Linked DNA regions of Homo sapiens: region 2 is linked to region 1. Evidence: fine-mapped expression QTL. A gene starts in region 1. The other region holds a variant in brackets. All regions are shown on one strand. Distances are from middle to middle. Region 1 holds the start of GLP2R (glucagon like peptide 2 receptor). Region 2 overlaps RCVRN (recoverin).

Evidence for each region. PIP is the estimated chance that this variant, and not a neighbour inherited with it, causes the effect.
Region 2: its variant is the best candidate, but not a certain one, in a credible set for the expression of GLP2R in sigmoid colon (GTEx, PIP 0.78).

Annotation. Positions count from the first base shown.
Region 1 is chr17:9,820,053-9,830,340 of GRCh38, forward strand. It overlaps GLP2R (glucagon like peptide 2 receptor), which reads left to right and starts at 5,872. Exons shown (of 13, transcript NM_004246.3): 1 at 5,872-6,200. The coding sequence starts at 6,012. GSG1L2 (GSG1 like 2) reads right to left here and starts at 2,027. Exons shown (of 5, transcript NM_001310219.2): 1 at 1,710-2,027. The coding sequence starts at 2,019.
Region 2 is chr17:9,892,924-9,903,211 of GRCh38, forward strand. It overlaps RCVRN (recoverin), which reads right to left. Exons shown (of 3, transcript NM_002903.3): 2 at 8,066-8,177; 3 at 3,397-5,281. The coding sequence ends at 5,172. Among named protein-coding and RNA genes, the nearest start is that of RCVRN, 7.2 kb to the right of the region's middle. RefSeq lists an enhancer at 6,125-6,626. The variant C/G (reference allele first, on the strand shown) is at 5,490.

The DNA.
Region 1 (10,288 bases):
GCAATCCAGCCTGGGCAACGAGAGGGAAATTCCATCTCAAAATAAAAAATAAAATAAAATAAAATAAAATAAGAATACAGACCTCTAGACTCCACCCCGGCTCTCTTAAATTAGAACCTCCAGGACTGGGCACCTGGATATTTCTTTTACAAGTTCCTTGGGTGATACATTTGATAACTGGTGTGACGCCTATATAGAGCTGTGGAAACAGAAGTACTATAGGCAGTCCTCATATGAGAACTTGGAAAGGAGATGGAATTTCCCAAGTGATTTGCCTATAAGTATGGTGAATACAGTTTCCAAACCAAAATTCTGGAAGTGTTTTGGAAATCCTCCAGGATGCAGGGTCCTGAGACTTTTGCCTCTGTCCATGAAGGTGGGGAAGAGACTCATAGGAAGATAGCACTCCCTGAGAAGCGAGGAACTGTGGAGGTCCTAAATAGCCTTAGCTCCAGGCACTATTGCAGTGTCTGTACCACACTTAAAGCACAAGACACAGGCACTGGCCTGGATACATGGGAGGTTCAGTCAGGCTGGGTACTGCCCCACATTGGCCACCACTGGGAGAGAGGGTGGAAGGGAGGGACATACAGCACCTCTGAGTGTTCCTTTTTTTTTTTTTTTAATTTGAGACAGGTCTCGCTCTATCATTCAGGCTGGAGGGCAGTCACACGATGATGACTCACTGCAGCCTCAACCTCCCAGGCTCAAGTGATCCTCCCAGAGTAGCTGGGACCACAGGCACACCCCACCATGTCCAGCTAATTTTTTAAAAAAACCTTTTGTAAAGAGAGGTCTCACTATGTTGCCTATGTTGCCAGGCTGGTCTGTAACTCCTGGTCTCAAGTGATTCTCCTGTCTCAGCTTCCCAAAGTGCTAGGATTATAGGAATGAGCCACCAGGCTGGGCCTCAGGGGCTTCATTCTTGTTGCCTTTTACTTAGGCCTCAGGAACAAAAATCAAATGCTATGAGAATGGAAAAAGAAAAGGCAATTAGAAACTCCAGAAAAAGTTAAAAAACTGTGCAAGAAATTGACTGTAATAAGCTGAGGTCAGGAAAGAAATGGGGATGGGAGGATTCCTCCTTTTTCTGCCTTGGAGGTTTTGCGTCCCAAGCAGAAAGGGAAGAGTACTCTGTCCCTGAACGCGGGCTTACAGCCAGGCTGCCAAATATGGAAGAGTCAAATTCCTCCCTCCTCAATTCTTTGAGAGGTAAAAACACTTCTGTTTTTAAAGATTCACTCCAAGATCATTCCAAGTGCAGGATAAATAACAGGGATGCACCTTCGAGTTGGGTCGGGACCACCTTTCATTCCCAAAGGATTTTAAATACCAGGGATTCAGTGACAAGAACAAACGAGAAACTAATTTTAATAAACACTTGCAATGTGTCAGGCCCTGTTGCAAGCTCTGTATGTGAATCTGGTCATTTCATCTTTACAATCACTCTTGGAGGTAAGTACTGCTATCATTCCCATTTTACAGATGAGAAAACTGAGGCTCAGAGAGGTGAAGGGACTTATTCAAGGATACCTAGACAATCAGTGGAGATGAAGGATTCAAACCCAGACAGCCTGGCTCCAGAGCCCCTGCATCATCCCGCACCTGTTACCCCCAGAATCTGCAGGATTCAAACCCAGACAGCCTGGCTCCAGAGCCCCTGCCCCATCCCGCACCTGTCTTCCCCAGAATCTACAGGCTTTGCTCACCTTCACCGTTGAGGCTCTCCTCGCAGGACTGCCAGAGCCCCACATGGAACCCCCGCTGAATGAACTTGTCATCACCCAGCTCCCAAATGTACAGGACAGCCTGGCTATTGTTGTCCATCCTGCCATTGCTGCTGTTGTCCCGTTTGAAGTGAATGCAGTGCTGCCCTCCCGGCTGGTCCTGGCACAGTGGCTTCACCACCCGTCGGGTCCCCTCACACCAGTGGCTGCTGACCACGGCGGTGAGGGAGAAGGTGAGGGCGAGGCAGACAGGGAGGAGGAGCAGCGCCTGCTGCTGCTTGGCCCTGTCCATGGCTGAGTGAGGTGCGTGGGGCAGGATGAGCTGTGGGGCCCCCTCCTCCTGCCTCGTCACGGTACCTGCCCCTCAGCTCTGCCATCTGGCATCCTCACACAGCCTCCTCTCACGTCCCCCTGGAGAATTGCACGTGCTGCCACACCAGATCCAGAGGCACAGAGCCGGGGCACGTTCCTGTCAAGGGTGCTGGCCCTGCCATTCTCCCCAGGAGGTAGGTGTGCGGGAGGGCATTGTTTTTTTTTGTTTGTTTGTTTGTTTGTTTTTTTGAGATGGAGTTTCTCTCTTGTTGCCCAAGCTGGAGTGCAGTGGCATGATCTTGGCTCACCTCAACCTCTGCCTCCCGGGTTCAAGTGATTCCACTGCCTCAGCCTCCTAAGTAGCTGGGACCACAGGTGCATGCCACCATGCTGGGATAATTTTTTGTATTTTAGTGGAGAGGAGGTTTCACCATGATGCCCAGGATGGTCTCGATCTCCTGACCTCGTGATCCACCTGTCTCGGCCTCCCAAAGTGCTGGGATTACAGGCGTGAGCCACCGTGCCCAGCCAGAGGGCATTGTTTTTAAATTGTGGTAAAACACACATAACATGAAATTAACCATCTCAACCTTTTTTTTTTCTTTTTTTGAGACAGAGTTTCACTCTGTCACCCAGGCTGGAGTGCAGTGGCACCGTCTTGGCTCACTGCAACCTCCACTTCCTGGGTTCAAGTGATTCTCCTACCTCAGCCTCCCAAGTAGTTGGGATTACAGGTGCCCGCCACCATGCCCGGCTAAGTTTTGTATTTTTAGTAGAGACGGGGTTTCACCATGTTGGCCAGGCTGTTCTCAAACTCCTGACCCCAGGTGATCCACCTGCCTCGGCCTCCCAGAGTGTGGGATTACCGGCATGAGCCACCACACTTGGCCATCTCAATCTTTTTTTTTTTTTTTTTTTTTTTTGATATGGAGTCTCACTCTGTCGCCCAGGCTGGGGTGCAGTGGCATAATCTTGGCTCACTGCAACCTCCGCCTCCCGGGTTCAAGTGATTCTCCTGCCTCACCCTCTAGAGTAGCTGGGATTACAAGCGCACGTCACCACACCCGGCTAATTTTTGTATTTTTAGTAGAGGCGGGGTTTCACCATGTTGGTCAGGCTGGCATCTCAACCATTTTTAAGTGCAAAGTTTAGTGGCATTAACTACGCTCACAGTGTTGTGCAACCATCACCACCATCCACCTCCAGAACTCTTTTCATCTTTCATCATCTGTACCCATCACACAACTCCCATTGCCCTTCCTCCTCTGCTTGGCAGCCACCATTCTTCTCTCTGTTTCTATGAATTTGACTACTCTAGGTGCCTCCTGTAAGTGCACTCATACAGTATCCGTCCCTTTGTGACTTGCTTACTTCGCTTAGCATAATGTCCTCAAGCTTCATGCATGTTGTAGCATGTGTCAGAATGTCCTTCCTTTTTCAAGGCAGAATAATATTCCCTGTGTTTGTTGGATAGCATTTTGTTCATCTATTCAGACACCTGGGTTTTTTCCACCTTTTGGCTGTTGTGGAGGGTGCTGGTTTTGATGGAAGACCAGGGGCTGTTTGGGTGGCTGTCTTGGTGAGACAGCCTCACCATTGCCTTTTGCATGGAGCAGGTCCTTAGTGTTGGATTCCGGAATCAGGGAATCCCAAGGACTTCATAGGCCTGTTTCTTGTCCAGCTCTATGTAGAGAAGGACTACGGAAAACAGATGCTTGTTCCAGGGATGCTGGGTGATGCGAGGTACAGGCAGGCTACCTCAGGGCCAAGGTGCTGTGCAGAATGGGGAGGGCAGCATGTATCCCACTTGGCTGCAGGGTTCTGAGGCCAGGGGCCCGCAGATGCTAGAAGACAGAACCCTGGGCACCATCGCTCAGGCCCTCACTGAACGGGGCACTGGCAGGAGCAGTGATGCTGAAGATTTTTAAGGAACTCCTCGGGCAGAGGACACTGATGAAGGTGTGAGGGCAGAAGATTCTGCAGAGCATCCTGAAAACACACAGGCTCTTGATGATGTGTTAGACACCTCCTGAATACCCCCCAGACAGAATCTGGAATCTATGTGCCTGGGCTAGACAGTGATACTGGGTTAATATCACTCCATCTATACTTTGCCGCTGGCCGAGTCTGGGCACCTGTGTCCTGTGCTCTCACTGGCCTGGTGGGGTGTCCAGTCTCAAGGGAAGAGGCCTTACTAAGTTCCATCGCTAGAGGGCAACCAGCCAATGGGTGGGGAAGTCGTGTGTGGCCCCCAACTTTCATCCCTTCAGAAATAAAGGATGTTTTTGAGAAAAAGTTGCAAGAGATGAGATGGAATATTCTTGCAAAGCAGGTATTTTCTTTAAAGACAGACCATTTTCCAGCATGCAACTTGGAAGATGATCTTTAATGAGCACTCACAGAACGGAGTTGCAGCCACATTCAATGACCAAAGTCCATCCCTTGGGTACTTTCTCCCTCTGGGTCACTCCATCCTGCTCTCTGCCATCCCAGAGAGATGACCACGTCAATTCCAGAGGTGACACCACTCTGAGTCCATTTCTAGGGTCTTTGTTCTAGTTGAGCTTTTCATTGTTAAGGTCTAAAATCTTGTCACATGGAGTTTTTAAGATTTTTAGGGATGTCTATTAAGAAAAGCATGGCTGCTTTTCCCAACTGTTCAGAATTCATTCAGTTGAAAAGTTACCCAGGATGAGTTCCTATGTTTGACTTGAAGAGGGAAGGAAAAAATAACACAAAAACAAAACCAAAAACGAAGTGAAAACATGTTCTTCTTGCCTCTTGCTGACTCACTGTTCCAACCAATCAAGACATCTTCCACCTGGGCCTCCAATTTGGGAGGCTGGGAGACATTGCAGGGACGCTGGGAGCTGGCCTGGGAGAGGTGGAGTAAGAAGTTCCAAGCAGAGCCTTTGGGAGGCATGGCGATGAGCCTGCTAAGAACTCACCGGAGAGGGCAGGGGCAGGACAGGGCACCCTCCCAAGTACCTGTGCTCAAGCAACTCTGGTCAGAAGACCTGCCTATCCGGTTCTGCTGTTTACTTGCTGTGTGGCTTTGGGCAAGCCATCCAACCTCTCTGAGCCTCAATGTTTCTCAGCTGTCAAATGGAGAATTCATCGTATCCTCATGGGGTTATTGTCAGGATGTGCGAAATAGGATGGTGGGTTAAAAGACGTTGTCAATGTGAGTTGTGGGGACAGCCTACTCCTGTGCTGGTTAGTAAGTGATGTATCATCAATTCCATAAAAGGGTCTGTCAGGTGGGCTGAGCCACATGTGCTTAGAACAAGTGGGCATTCAAGATGAGTGAATGTTGCACTTTTCAACACACTGTTTTGCTATTGTGTAGGCATAACCTACGCCGCTGATTGGGTTTTTGCTTCATGGCCTGGGCTGGGAGCTGTTCTCTCCTGAGCTGAGCAACCACCTCTCCTGCAGTCTCTGCATAAACAGGACCCAGAGGAGATTTTGCCTTTGTGGTTAGCCTCAGCCCAGCCTGGACAAGCTTAATGCCTTAGAAAGAAATACCCTGCCTCAAAAAGACACCTGCCTCTAAACTGGCTCGAGCCCCATCGCCTTCTGCCAGCCATTCCTCTGTAGCTCGAACCCCAGCCTGTCTCAGCCAGCTTCGTGCATTGAGCAGAACCTTCAGGGTGGAGCCCGCTGACCGCCTTGTTCTTTCTCCTCAGCCTGTCAAGGAAGTCCCAGAAAGCACAGCTGACTTAGGGAAGGTCTGGGAAAAATCTCCCTGCTTTTGGGGGGGCAGGGGCGGGGGATGAGCCAGGGCCGAGAAGGAACTCTGAAGACTCCGTAGATTGCTCTAGACCGCCTCAGACACTCTCGGCGCAGCGTGGAGAGGATTTGTGCAAACATTTCCTCTGTGGACCAAGAGGAATGCAAGAGGAGGCTGCCTGCGGTGCATCTTGGACGGCTAGAGAGATGTACCCCTACTTGTGAAGGTGCACGAGGAAGATGAAGCTGGGATCGAGCAGGGCAGGGCCTGGGAGAGGAAGCGCGGGACTCCTGCCTGGCGTCCACGAGCTGCCCATGGGCATCCCTGCCCCCTGGGGGACCAGTCCTCTCTCCTTCCACAGGAAGTGCTCTCTCTGGGCCCCTGGGAGGCCCTTCCTCACTCTGGTCCTGCTGGTTTCCATCAAGCAAGTAAGAGCAGTTCATTATTATTATTATTATCAGTTGTATTTCCTGATTTTTTTTTAAAGAAGCAATTTAGGCCTCATGTAAGCAATTTGGAAAAGAGAAAACAGTATTAAGAAAATAATGAGCCGCCATAATCCTAGCATTCAAAGGTAATCACTGTTCATATTTTGGCATATTGTCCTCAAACCTTTTCTCTATGCATTTGTTTTTTTTTACAACAGCTGATATTAGGAAGCATAAAACATGTTGTGTCCTGGTCCCCCCAACCAGCCCCGCATCATATTATAAGCATTTCCCCACGTCAATGTGAGTTCTGCAAATAGCATTTACAATTGCTGCACATATCCTTCTGTTTGTCTTCAGTATTCTCCCAGCTTTGAGTATTTAGGTTGAGCAAATCCATTTTTCTTTTTCCTTTCCTTTCCTTTCCCTTCTGTTTCCTTTTTCCTTTCATTACAAAAATGTTGAACGCTAATTGTTTTTTTAAAATACAATTCAAAGAAGTGAAATGCAAACTACAAATCACTCTACTTCCAACAGCTGCAGATCATCCTCATTCACATTTGGGGGCTTATACTTCCAGACATTTTTCTACCATTGTTTGCATACAGTTTTTTGTTTGTTTGTTTGTTTGTTTTTTGAGATGGGGTCTCGCTCTGTCGCCCAGGCTGAAGTGCAGTGGTGAGATCTTGGCTCACTGCAACCTCTGCCTCCCGGGTTCAAGTGATTTTCCTGCCTCAGCCTCCTGAGTAGCTGGGATTACAGGTACGTGCCACCACCCGGCTAATTTTTGTATTTTAGTAGAGATGGGGTTTCACCATGTTGGCCAGGCTGGTCTTGAACTCCTGACCTCAAGTGATCTACCCGCCTCGGCCTCCCAAAGTGCTGAGATTATAGGCATGAGCCACTGTACCAGGCCTACATACAGTTTTTTTTTTTAAACAAACACAGGCACATACTATAAATATTATTTTGTAATCTGCTTTCTTCATAACAAAATACACTAATAACACAGCTGACATCACTATGGAGCACTTGCTCTGCACTGGGTTGAGTGCCAGGTGCCCCCGTTCCTCATATTTTCTCCTTCTGTGTTCTCAGCAACCCTATAGACTGAGGTTCTCTTGTTAATCCCCTTTTACAGATGAGTAAACTGAGTCTCGGAGAAGTTGAGCAACATTCGTCCATGTTAGTAAATGTAGATCCATGGTATAATATTTAAGGGCTTTAAGGGTTTATTGTAATGTCTTTAACTATCCTCTATCGTTGGGCATGCTGGTAGCTTGCTTTATTCTATCCAAGAAGATTAGACCTTCGTCCTCTTTCCAAGTTTCCATTTGGATACTGGGCTATGGGCAGTATAAAAGGATGATGGGAAGGAACCCCAGTTCCACTTGTCTGAATAACGAAAGTAGCTTAAGGAATGGCTCAGACTGGGCACGGTAGCTCACGCCTGTAACCCCAACACTTTGGGAGGCTGAGGTGGGCAGATCACAAGGTCAGGAGTTCAAGTCCGGCCTGGCCAACGTGGTGAAACCCCGTCTGTACTAAAAAATACAAAAATTATCTGGGCATGGTGGTGTGTGCCTGTAATGCCAGTTGCTCAGGAGGCTGAGGCAGGAGAATTGCTTGAACCTGGAGGTGGAGGTTGCAGTGAGCCAAGATCACGCCATTGCACTCCAGTCTGGGCAGTAGAGTGAGGATCTGTCTCAAAAAAAAAAAAAAAAAAAAGGAATGGCTGTCTTCCTCCTTCGTTCCATGGGCAGGGTGAGTCCCTGTTCATGGTCTTGGAATTCTAAACCCCTCCAATCCCCATGTAGGGCAGGCTGTGGTACCAGGTCTCATGAGGGTTCACCTCAGGCTTTCTTTGTTGCAAGCCTGGGGCTAGACAGGCAGATAACCCCTGCCAGATTTCCTACATCCAGGTTCCCCTAGAGGCTGCCTTCAGGCCCTCATGGATTGTAAATGTGAGCCCAATCAATGGTTTCATGGAATTCTTGCCATCTTGGCAGCCTCTCCCCCAGTGACCAGAACATCCTTCAGGAAGGTGGCCCTGGCCTGCCTCTGGTCCCAGGACTTCAATGTGTTAGTGGTGGGACCATTTGGTGGGAGGGTTGGTTCAGAACATTCATCCTTGCTTCCATTCTCTGGATATCTCATATCAACACTGAGTGAGTGTATCCAGCTTATCATGTAGTTTTGTTCACAAATGTGGATTGCTGACCACATGCCAAGCCCTGAGACAGCGCTCAGGATATTATCATAAAATGCTTCCTCACACATCATCTTACTTAATCCTCAACACAAGCCTCTGAGAAGAGTGTTATTACTGAGCCCCTTTTACAGATGGGCAAATTAAGCTTCAGAGGAGTTAAATGGTTGCGTTCGATGCTGTAGCTCCTGAGCACTGTAGCCGTTGTGCCTACCCGGGGTGTTTGAAGCCCTGTGTTTTTTCTTCCGGAGTGCTCTTGGGAGTTGCTGATGTATGAATATTTATGTTACAACAGCGGAATCTGCAGAGCCTCGGGCCGGCTTACCAGGCTGAGAAAGCCACACCTTGACCCTTTCAGTCTGGTATTTTTATAATCAATAACATGTCTGCTGGCAGTGTCTGCTTCCACTCTCTGCCACCCAGTCTGCGTTTTCAGAGCATTTCTGGCTGTCTGTCCTCCGGGTGTGTCTGTAATTCTGATGGCCTTACTCTTGGTTCTCCATCTTAACCCCATATTCCTTTTCTAGATGTTTATATTACAAGGCTTTGTGAAGACTTTCATGATAAATTCTGCTCATAGCCTCTTTCCCTGCATGGAATATAAATGACTGTGGTGTGTGTTCTGGCAGGAAGTCTTCAAAAATTTCACTTAATGAGAAATTCTCAGGGATAGTTTAGTTTCTAAATTCAAGCAGGGAGGTAGTGTTATCCCCACACCACTCTCTCCCACACTCGTTTAAGTTATTTAGCAGTTGCTTTGGCATCAAAAACATAAACTATCTAAGGATTTTTGAGAAGTACATTGCGGCCCTTTTATACATGGATGGCAGGAGGGTAAAATGGTGCATATTTAAAATTTTTAATTTTTTTTTTTTTTTGGTGAGGGTAGACAGTTTGGCAGTCAAAAACCTTTAAAACTATGTGCATTCTGTGACCCAGAAATTCAAATTCAAAGAATTTCTAAGAAATAAAGATGTGCTCTCAAATGTTCAACTATGAGGATTTTAATCACAGCATCATTTACGTCAGCAAACATCTTAAAACAACATAGGCATTCAACGCTAGAGGATTTAAAAACTAAATTATATCACTTTTTTTCATAGAATGTTATGTAGCTGTTAAAAGGATGCTTTACTTCATTTATTATTTATTTCTTGAAATGGAAATATATTCACAATATTGGTCTTCTAATGAAACATAAAAGGCTTTGAAACAAGATTATTCCCTTTGAAGTCACAATAAAAAAGAAAAGAAAGACAATGAATGTGTCTTTCATTCACAGAGAGAAGAATCTGGAAGTAGATGGTAATTTCTGAGTAATGAGATGATAATTTCACCTTCTCCCCTTTTTGCATAGCTGTGATTTCTATTTCATCTACAGTGAAGTGTATTCCTTCTCTAACAAAGAAAAACAGATTTATTTAAAGAGAGTCAGTATAAGGATTTTTCTTTCCTTTTCCTTAATCCCTTCTCGGCCAAGTTCGTTGCTGATGCTGGTTGCCTATGCAAGGGAAAAGGAATCAAGGTCAAGCTGGACTTTTCCAGTTGGAAAAAAATTCACCCGTATATCTTCTTTCCTCATGACTTTGGGAATCTGGCTGTGATTGAACTTGGATGTACCCCTTGTGTTTTTTATGTCTTTAGGGCAAGGGAAGACAGTCTGAGTTTGTCCAGCTCTCCTAGACTGACAAAATTCAGTACTTTTTAGTTTTAGTTTGTTTTTCTGCTTTTGACTATGGCCATTGGCCATGGCAAAGAATGGAGGATAGGGGAACATTACTCCAGAGGCTGATTTTATTGTCTCTTCCTTAATCAGGTCCCGGAGAGGTCCCTGGGGTCATAAATAGTACTTTGTCCACCAATGGATCTTACACTGATG
Region 2 (10,288 bases), 73 kb after region 1:
TTTTTTCTTTTTGTTTTTTGAGACAGAGTCTTGCTCTGTCACCAGGCTGGAGTGCAGTGCTGTGATCTCGGCTCACCGCAACCTCCACCTCCCAGGTTCAGGCAATTCTTCTGCCTCTGCCTCCCGAGTAGCTGGGACTACAGGCGCCTGCCACCACTCCTGGCTAATTTTTGTATTTTTAGTAGAGATGGGGTTTCACCATATTGGTCAGGCTGGTCTCAAACTCCTGACCCCAGGTGATCCACGCGCCTTGGCCTCCCAAAGTGCTGGGATTACAGGCGTGAGCCACCGCGCCCGGCCAGCCATTATTAAGTGTATGGTTCAGTGGCATGAAGTACCTTCTTACTGTTGTGCAGCCGTCACCACCATCCATCTCCAGGACTCTTTCATCTTCCTGAACTGAAACTCTACATCCATTAAACAATAGCCTCCCATTCTTTCCTCCCCAAGCCCCTGACAACTTCTACTTCCTGTCTCTGTGAATTTGCTTATTCTGGATACATCAGCTATAAGTGGAACTGTATAGTATGTATCCTTTTGTGATCAGCTTATTTCACTCCCATAGTGCCCTCAAGGATCATCCACCTTGTAGTGTGTGTCAGAAATTCCTTTTTTAAAATGCTGAATAATATTCCATGCATACCACATTTTGTTTATCTGTTCATCCATTGATGGACACTTGGCTTGTTTCCATGTTTGGCTATTGTGAATAATGCTGCTATTGGTAGGGATGTATAAACATCTGGTTTCTGTTTTAAAAATTTGAGTATACCTACAAGTGGAACTGCTGAATCATATGGTGATTCTATATTTTCCCCAACAGCTGCGCCATTTTATATTCCCACCAGCAATGCATGAGGATTCCAAATGCTCCATGGCCTTTGCCAACATTTATTTTCTATTTTTTTATGATAACCATTCCTAATGGCTGTGAAATGGTATCTCATTGTGGTTTTGATTTGCGTTTCCGGAATGACTAATGATGTCAAGCATCTTTTTATGTGCCTGCTGATTAGTCCTTTGTGAGTCTTCTTTAGAAAAATATCTATTCAATTCTTGGCCCATTTTTCAATTGGATTGTTTGTTTTTTGTTGTTGAGTTGCAGGAATTCTTTATGCATTCTGAATATGGATACCTTATCTATTATTTGCAAATATTTTCTCTCATTCTGTAGATTGTCTTTTTGCCTCTTGATAGTGCCCTTTTATGTAGAAAAGTTTTAAATTTTGTTGAAGTCCAATGTGTCTATTTGTTTTTCTTTTGCTGCCCGTGCTTTGGCATCAACGCCACCTGTGTGACTTTAATATGGGACCAAGGTTGAGAACATTGGAACTGAGGCAGAGGGGAAGGAGGTGAACCCTCCTCTGGAAACTGACAATACCTTGCCGAAGTCCAAATAAACTGAGTCTTTCTCCCATGTAGCATTTAGAGCTCAAATTCTTCCACAAGCACAGACTCAACTGATTCTCACAACTCTTAAGTGACAGGCAATGTAGGTGTGGCTGGCCCAGTTTTATTTTTTAAGGAGTGGTCATCCAGCTGGAGCCTAAGAGCCTGAGACACAGACATTTTTGGGCTTGTCTGATGAGTTTATATAACCATTAAGGGGCAGAAATGGGAGTGAAGTGGACAGCAGTACGGCGGCTGACCCCACTTGGCTCCATGGTCAGAGTCTGAGCCTGGTGAGAGAAGAGAAGCTTCAGACAAAAGCTAGGAGAGCTGTTTCCAGGAGGCAATGACAAAAGCTGTTTCCGTGACACATGCTACTTCCCATGGGGCTGTTCTGATAGACTCTAACCTAGAAGGCTCCTCAGCAGATCAGCACACAGCTTGGGTACATTAGGAGCACTGTGGCCTCGCCTGTGATTAGGAACGTAGTACTTGAGGGCAGCAATGGCACCTGGCACTAAGGGATCTATGGGTGAATCTGTGTGGGACACCTCCTGGAGATGCTAAAAATGCCCAAGAGACACTGCACAAGGGGCTGGGATCTTATGTGGGCAGGTGGCAACAGAAGCTCAGGCAGTTTGGATTATTGCTCTTAATGAGACCCATTTCTGCCCTTGAATTTACATGTACTTGAGGAGTCAGGGATCTAGAGACAGGAAATGACTTCCCCAAGGTCTCTATAGTAGACATCTATTTTTAGAATCTGCCCTTCTTATAGTACCCCAATTTTCCTCTTGGAAAAACCACTCATCTCCTACTGTCAGTCCACGGAACTTGAGTTGTCCTGACTCTATCCTCAGTTCAAGGATGGGCATAAAAATCTGCTGGCCAAGCAGAGCAGTACATCCTTCTGGCATCAGATATTGAGTCAGGCATGGGCATATAACTAACCAGAGACAGTGAGATGCAATCCTGACACTTTGGCTGGGACTCTTAAGAGAAAGCATTTTCTCTTTTCTGCTGAAATTGGAACCATGAAGAAGGCAGCCTGGATCTGCTGGTGACCGTCCTGCCAGCATGGGAAGAACCTGTCTGAGAATGGTGGTGACAGCAGAAACCAGAACCAGGAGAGGGAGAAATGAACTCTGGGACATTGTTGGAGCCCCTGGATTAAGCCATACCTGAAGCTAGCCCTACTCCTAGAATTTCAGCTATAAGAGCCAAGCAATTTCTATTTGTGCCACAATAATTTGTGCCAGGTCATCTACCTTTTGCATCTGGAAGAGTCTTGATGACATAGCTCATCACTATCTCCACCTCCTCTTCCCTGTGGCCAAGTTGAACTTCATGCTTTATTTTCCACAAAGTGTCATACAGCTGTAGAGAATCTCAGCCCAAGTGGTCCTTCCACCCTAAGCTAAAAAAAGAGGCACTAATTAGGTTTTCACTCTTTGGCTCTCCCATTGAACCACAAACCAGCAAGGACCTAATTATGCAGTGTCTGTCCTTTTAGACTCAAGTGACAATGATAGACTGACCTCAGAGAGAAGTGAAAAGCCCCCAGCCTCATCCTCGAAGCAACCAGATTCATTCATGGAGTGTGGTGGAAAGAGCATTGAGCCCTTTGGTTATATTCCTAGAACACTCTGGACTGGACCCACAGAGTCTTTTATCTCCCACTGAACTGGCTTCTATATAGCCCACTATGTCTACATGGGAGAATGCCTTGGGTAGATGATTCTAGTAATAATCCTTCTCCTCCCAGAACCTCTGGACTCATGCCTTGTAGCCTCCTTCCCCTTTCCATCTCTGACATTGTGCAATCCTAGAGTTCTCTATCCTGCTGTGTCCAGGTCAAAACTATTGGAGAAATCTGGTGTAATCAAAGGGACTCCAGTTTAAGTACCAACTCCTACTCACACTTCCTGCCCTCAGTATCCTCATCTGTATTGTGCAGATAATAACATCTCCATCAATGAAATAATGATGGCAGAGTCTAGCATGGTGCACGGTTCATAAGTGTTTATTCTCACGTTTGCTCTCCACACAGAGGAGTGCTCTTTGGCAGTGGTGATTGTGTCATCTCTGTGGCTAAAGTGGGGTCTGGAGGCATCACCACAATACCAGCAACTAGAGACTCCTCAGCCTCAAGAGGTTGCAGACAGGTCAGTCAAGAATCCAGGGTATCCATGCATTTTTCTGACCTCATCTTGGAACTTGAGGCTGGAGAATAAATGGGCCTTCAAAGCAACAAATCCAGGGATCTTGGAGAATGCACTGATGGAGTTCCTGGGTATCCCAGGCCCTGGAGCTTTGAGGAGGCAGTTGGGGGCCGGTGGGTAGCCCTTGCCTGACCTCTGCTCATCAGCTGGCTGCCCTTGGGCAAGCTGCTTCCTGTCATTGGGACTCCTTTTCCTTGTCTCTAAAACAAGGGGCTTTAGGGCCATCTATGGCTCTGCCTTCACCTCATACTATATTGAAGCTGAATTCATCATTGTTCCCTGAAACCCCAAAGACTCTCTGTATTTCTCATCTCCATAGATGGCATTGCTATTCACCCACTGCCCAAGCTACAGGCCTGGCTGCCATTCCTGCCCTCTCTCCTCCTGCCCCCTCAGCCAGCCAGGTGGATGCTACCTCCTAAATGTGTCCTCACTGGATCTGGTCCTCTCCATCCCATTGCCTTTCCCCTGGCCCAGGCCATCTGAGTGGCTGCAAAAGCTTATTCATCGGGCTCCCTGACTCCAGGGAGCCCCCAGTTGCTCCTCTCTGACTTATTTTAGCCTGCTGGGGACTTCTCTTACAAACATAAACCCCTCCTACTTCCAACTCCACAGTGGCACCGCTGTCCCCATGGTGAGCCCCCAAGTGCTTACCACAGGCTGCAGGGAGGGCTTTGCGTGGTCCAGCCCCCGCCTACCTTTTAGATTCAGCTCACACTTTGCTCTCCCTCCTCCTTCTACCCTCCAGCCACCCCGACCTTCTCCTGGAACTCGAGATGGTCATTCATGCCTCAGCGGCTCTGTGTTGGCCGCCTTCTGTTTGAGACTTCCCCACCCCGACCCCGTCCCCCGCCTCGTGTGCAGTGGTTCTGAATTTAAATCTCCCTTCGTCAGGGATGTGGTCCCTGATCCCCCCTGACAAGTCAGCCCCTTCCACTGTGTCCTCCCCTGGTGCTCTGCACGTTTCCATGGTAACCTGGGCCACTGGTCATGGCTCCTTCCAGGTTCATTGTCCCCTCTGGACCATGAGCTCCATGACAGCAGGACCGCATTAGACTCATTCCGCACCAAAGCAGCCCAGCCTAGGGCTGCCATCGCAACACAGCCTTGTCTTTGAGGTGTGACTGATAGAAATCATTTCCTTTTCCAGTTGAAGGATGACCAGCAGCCACGTGCCCAGCTCAGCTTGCGTTTATTGGAAACTGCTTACCCAGCACTCCACAAAGGAGCTTACAGCGGGGTGACACTTAGGACTCCTATGGCCTAATCCTGGGATTAGCACAGGGCCATGGGCTGGTGGACAGAGGGAGGGGTGGGACCGGGCATGATGGGAGGGAATGCTGAAGACCCAGGAAGAAGGAACCAGTGGGTCACTACAGATGCTTCAGTTTGGCAGGGAGCTGTGCTGTGGGCTTGTGTGCAGGCCTTTCTCTTGGCCCTGGGGTGGATGTGTGTGTGTGTGTGTGCGCGCGCGTGTGTGTGCATGTGTGTGTGTGTGCACAGGCGCTCACGGGTGTCATGTGAGTGGTAGGTGGAGGGAGGACAGCTGAACAGTTGGCATCAGGCGTTCTTCATCTTTTCCTTCACTTTTTGAGGCTCAAACTGGATCAGTCGCAGAATTTCCTTATTGGCCAGTGTCCCCTCAATGAATTCTTTCTCTGTAAGTTTATCTGTGCATTGGGAAAAAATATATACGTACATAAAACAGTCAGGATTGATAGCCAAGTGAGCTGCGATGAGGCTGACATCTAGCCAGTATCCCCAGTGTGAATGTATCTATTATAAGAATATTGAATACTCAGTGGCCCTGAGTATTCAATATTCCCCCACCCCAGTCCAGATACCCACCTCCTTTCCCATGACCCTTGGAGCTCCCTG[C/G]AGACCAGCAAAGAGCGGTGAATGACTGGCACTGGGGGGGCCCCCAAGATGCCAGTCTTGTGCTATGTGTCTCTTCCGATTGGCCGGTGCCCCTGCCTTGCTGGTTATTAAATACTTCAATAATTAATAACTATTAATTGTTATTCTATTTTCTATAGTAGCTCAAGTTTCAAGGATCAAGTTCAGGAGGAGCTTCTGGGGGTCTGAGCATAGCAAAACAATCTGGATGTCAGGCCCAGAGTCTCAGCTGAGAAGCAGGGAACAACATCCCTCCAGAAATAGGAGTGAGAAGTGAAGGGCCCAATGAGATCATGCCAGGGGGAGTGTGGCTTGCAGAGAGGTCTCTTTGGCACCTGCAGCACACAGGCAGCCCCATGATTCCTGGCTGACAACTCCGCCATGATCCCTTCCTATGCATCCATCCCTGCGTCCCCCAGTCTCATCTGCCTCCTTATTTGGGATCAGGACTGAGAGACAGCCTTGTTGCGCCCACACCTGGTTTTCCGGTGTTTTTAATCAGGTGGCTAACTGTATTCAGATCAGTCCAGTTAAATGCATGGTCCTGAGCCCAGATGCCACTGTGCTTGGAGCCAAGGCCACCACAGGGAGCGGAGGCGGGGTGTACAATAGAAGAGAGTGAGATGAAGTCCCTCCCTGGGAAACTGTTGACCTGGCGGGGAAGGCAGTCACACGCAGAAATACCTCTAGCATGAGACAGATGCTCCTTTCTGTTGTATGTTCACAGTGCCTAGCACAGAGTCGGTGCTCAACAAAGCTTTGCTGAACTGAATGTGATTTCTGACTTATGCTCTGGGCCTTTTGGATACCTTTAATCCCTTCTGGGTTAGGATCCAGGATGGCTTCCTCCGCAAGTCTGGGTGGTAAAATTTGGGTTTTAACATCCCAGCCACCCCACAGAGAGCTCACAGAGAGCTTGAAACTCCCACCATCAAAGCCTGACTCTGCCCTGAGGCATTGTCTCCAGATGGGCCGCGTGGAAACACGTACAACACATCACGAACAGGAGTAACACGTCGACCTCGGGGCTTCTGACGTCATCCCCTCCCGGGATGTTCACCAGGGAGGTTTTCAGATGAGCAAAAAGCAGAACACAGGGCTCGACACATGAACGGACCCAGAGGGAGGTCGCGAAGCCAGTTAAGGAGCCAGTGGGGCAAAGTGCCAAAAGAAGGCATCTTGGTAGCCAGTGTCTGTGCAAGGAGGAGAGAGTGCTCAAAGGTGAGGGGCCAATCCGGGCCGATGAGGGAAAGGTGGGTAAAGTACCAAGGCGCGAATTTAAGGAGGCGCTCACTTTCAGGTCCTGTGAGTGCATTGTTGACCCCTGAGAACGAGCGCCTCCTTAAATTCTGTGTCCTATGTTCCTCCTACCCCAATGACCTTCATGCTTCTCTTATTTCATCATTTGTTGGCAGATTAGGAGGAGCAGGGTCATCTCTCTCTGCCCTTATTTAGCATCCTGCTCAGCTTTTTCTTCTTGAACCTTGGCAGAAGACTGCCTCCAGAGGTCACCAAAGGGGTTAATACAGGACCCTTGGATGTGTTTGGGCCATGCTGTGTTTTATCAGTTGAGACACACTGGATTTTTAAAGTCTTCATGGCTGGCTTCTCTTAAAAAAAAATCAGATGATGTCTCAACCACGGGTTCCATAGCCCCACATGGAATATGCTGGAAGCCATCAGACCAGAGGTGCACCCTCTGCTGTTTGCCAATCCCCACTGCTTGTAGATGACTGTCCACATAACTCGTTTTCATCATTCCTGCCCCTCCAGCCATATGTGTTTGCAGCCCCAGCCTAATACCAGCTCCTTTACCGCATCCTTGTGCTGGCCGTAAGCATCACAGACACACAGCCCCAGCAGCCGAGTGCTGGAGTCCATCACTGCCTACAGTGCAGGATCACACTTCCTGGGGGCTGCTTCCAGCCACTGACTGACAGGGCAGGGGCACCAAGACTGACAGGGGCACTGAGGACACCCCATCGACTCTGTCAACACTTCCTCAGACTGCACTGCAGTCTCGGGCATTACTTACCTAATCTTCCTTTCTTTCCTAACCTTCCTTTCTTTCCTAACCTTCCTTTCTTTCCCTCTCTCCCTGCCAGGGGTCAGATCTGCTTGGCAGTCTGATAGCTTTCCCAGCCTCCTCTCGATCCCAGCCTGTTTTCCTTCTTCAGCCTTTCCTCCCATAAATCTCTTGCAATCTCATTTAAATCTAATCCTATCTTGGTGGTGTTTCTCAGAGGACCCAAACCAACTTCCCAAAGTAAAACCATAGAAATACAGATCCCACTGACTTGGGACTCGATATTAATTCAAAGCTAGGGTGAGCTGAAGTTTGCTCTTGTTCTAATTGCACAGAAAACAGTTTTGGCTCCTGCTCACCCTTAAGGCCATTCCCCTGTCCAACCCTTCAAACAGCTCTGAAAATGCACAATGGAATGAGGTGTCCCCCATCCTGCCTGGACACTGTGACTCAGAAGAATAAATCTTGTTGGGATTTCCAGGAAACAGCCCATGGTTGAAAAATCAAAGGCAATGAAGGAAAAGGAATTCACCATCATCATTCTTTCCAAAGTACTTCCAGATCTTCTCGGCTCGCTTTTCCGGCGTGTTTTCATCGTCTGGAAGGAGCTTCACGTCCTCGGGAGTGATCATTTTGAAAATAGCCTGTACCAAACAGAAAGAAAGAACTCGTTAGGAGGAACTTTAAGGGGCTGGCAACCCTGGAAAATCCACATCTTACACTGTACACAAAAATCTACTCAAAATGGATTAAAGACTTAAACATAAGACCTCAGACCGTCAAACTGCTGGAGGAAAACGTAGGGGAAAAGCTTCTTGGCACTGGTCTTGACGATAATTTTTTGGATATGACACCAAAAGCAAAGGCAACATAAACCAGAATAAACAAGCAGGATAGCATCACACTAAAGAGCTTCTCCATGTCAGAGGAAACAATGAACAAAATCAAAATGTAACTTATGGAATGGGAGAAAACATTCGCAAACCATTTGCGTTCTGCCTCCCCGGAGACACCTGTGAGCAGGTCAGGCAGGGGCAATAATGGCTGTGAAATTATCCTGGAGGGAAGGTCGACAGCTTTGAGAAGTTTCCCTTCAGCCCCCTGGTGCTGGATAAAGGAGTAAAGAGGCCAAAGCCACAGCCCAGGGCAGCAGCGTCGCTGGCAGCACTCAAAGCCCTGAGCTGGACGCCAGTGTAGGTGGCTCCTACACTCCTATCCATCTGTGCAGGGCCTTGGGCACCATGTGCAGGTGTGCCAGCTAGAAGCTGGCAGTGAGTGCCTGCCCACCCCACTTCCAACACGGAGGGACAGACCTCCAGAGCCTCAGGAAAGACTGCAAAAATAATCAAATCCTCACCCTGGGCCCAGGAAGGTTATATGGTTTTCCCACAGCAACACTGCTAGTTGGAGTCAGAGCTGGGACTAGAACCCTTCACTTTTAACTCCCTCAGTCAGTGCTCTGCCCATGAACTTGTAATCTGGTGAATAGCAGAGCCTTCTGCCACCTTGCACAGCCCCAGCCATTGATGGAGTCTCCCTCCCTCCCTTTCCTTTCTTCTTTCTTCCTTTCTCTCCTCCTTTCCTTCTCCTCCCTCCCTTCCTTCTCTCCTTCCCCTTGCTTCCCCCTCTTTCCTTCCTGACTCCTACCTTCCCTCTCTCCCTCCCTCATTTCCCCCTCCTCCCTTTCCTCCTCCTTTTATTCAATGAGTATCAATTTGTAGGCTTCTGCTGGGCCCTGCATTGTTTATGCCACTCTGAAGACTTAGTCCCTGTCCCAGGCCACCCAGAGACCCCACAGCCAATCCGAGGGAGCTTTCTCTGCAGGCTGTGCCAAGATAACAATGAGAGAGACACATGCCTGCCAGAATGGGAGGCCCGAGCTGAGCATTGAGGATAAGCCCATGGACCACAAGCTGCATGCTCTGCTGTTTTATTTATGATTTCTCCTAATAACTGTGGAAGATTTTTGTGCATTTGTCATCATGCAAATGAAAGCATGATTGCCAATGCACACAAAGTTATTAACATCTAAACAATAGTCTCTACTAACAGGAATGGAATTAGAAGAATAAGGTAAGTGGCAGGGGCAGGGGGACTGAAAAAGAATAAATTAAAAAAAAATCAAATGAAGGAAATTAGAACTGGTATAATAGGAAAGAAATGGAAACAACCTAATGTCCAAAAACATAGGAATGTTCAATAATTTCCACATTTCCATAAGCCAGAATTCCAAGCAGCTATTAAAAGAGTTTTGGAAGAGGTTGGGTGCGGAAGCTCACGCCTGTAATCCCAGCACTTTGGGAGGCCGAGGCGGGCAGATCACCTGAGGTCAGGAGTTCGAGACCAGCCTGGCCAACATGGTGAAACCCCGTCTCTACTAAAATACAAAAATTAGCTGGGCAGGTGCCTGTAATCCCAGCTACTCGTGAGGCTGAGGCAGGAGAATTGCTCAAACCCAGGAGGGGGAGGTTGCAGTGAGCTGAGATCACGCCACTGCACTCCAGCCTGGGCGACAAGAGCAAAACTCTGTCTGAAGAAAAAAAAAAAGTGTTTTGGAAGAATATGTAATGATATGGAAAGCACTCATGATAAAAGAGTAACTGAAAAATGTATGATAAAAAATCGTATGTGAATATGTCATAGCTTTAACATTATTTAAAATTATATAGGTAAAAGACTGAAAAGGTATATACTGATATACTAAGAAAAGTTTTCCCTGGATGTTGGAATTAGAGGCAATTGTTAGTCTCTTTTG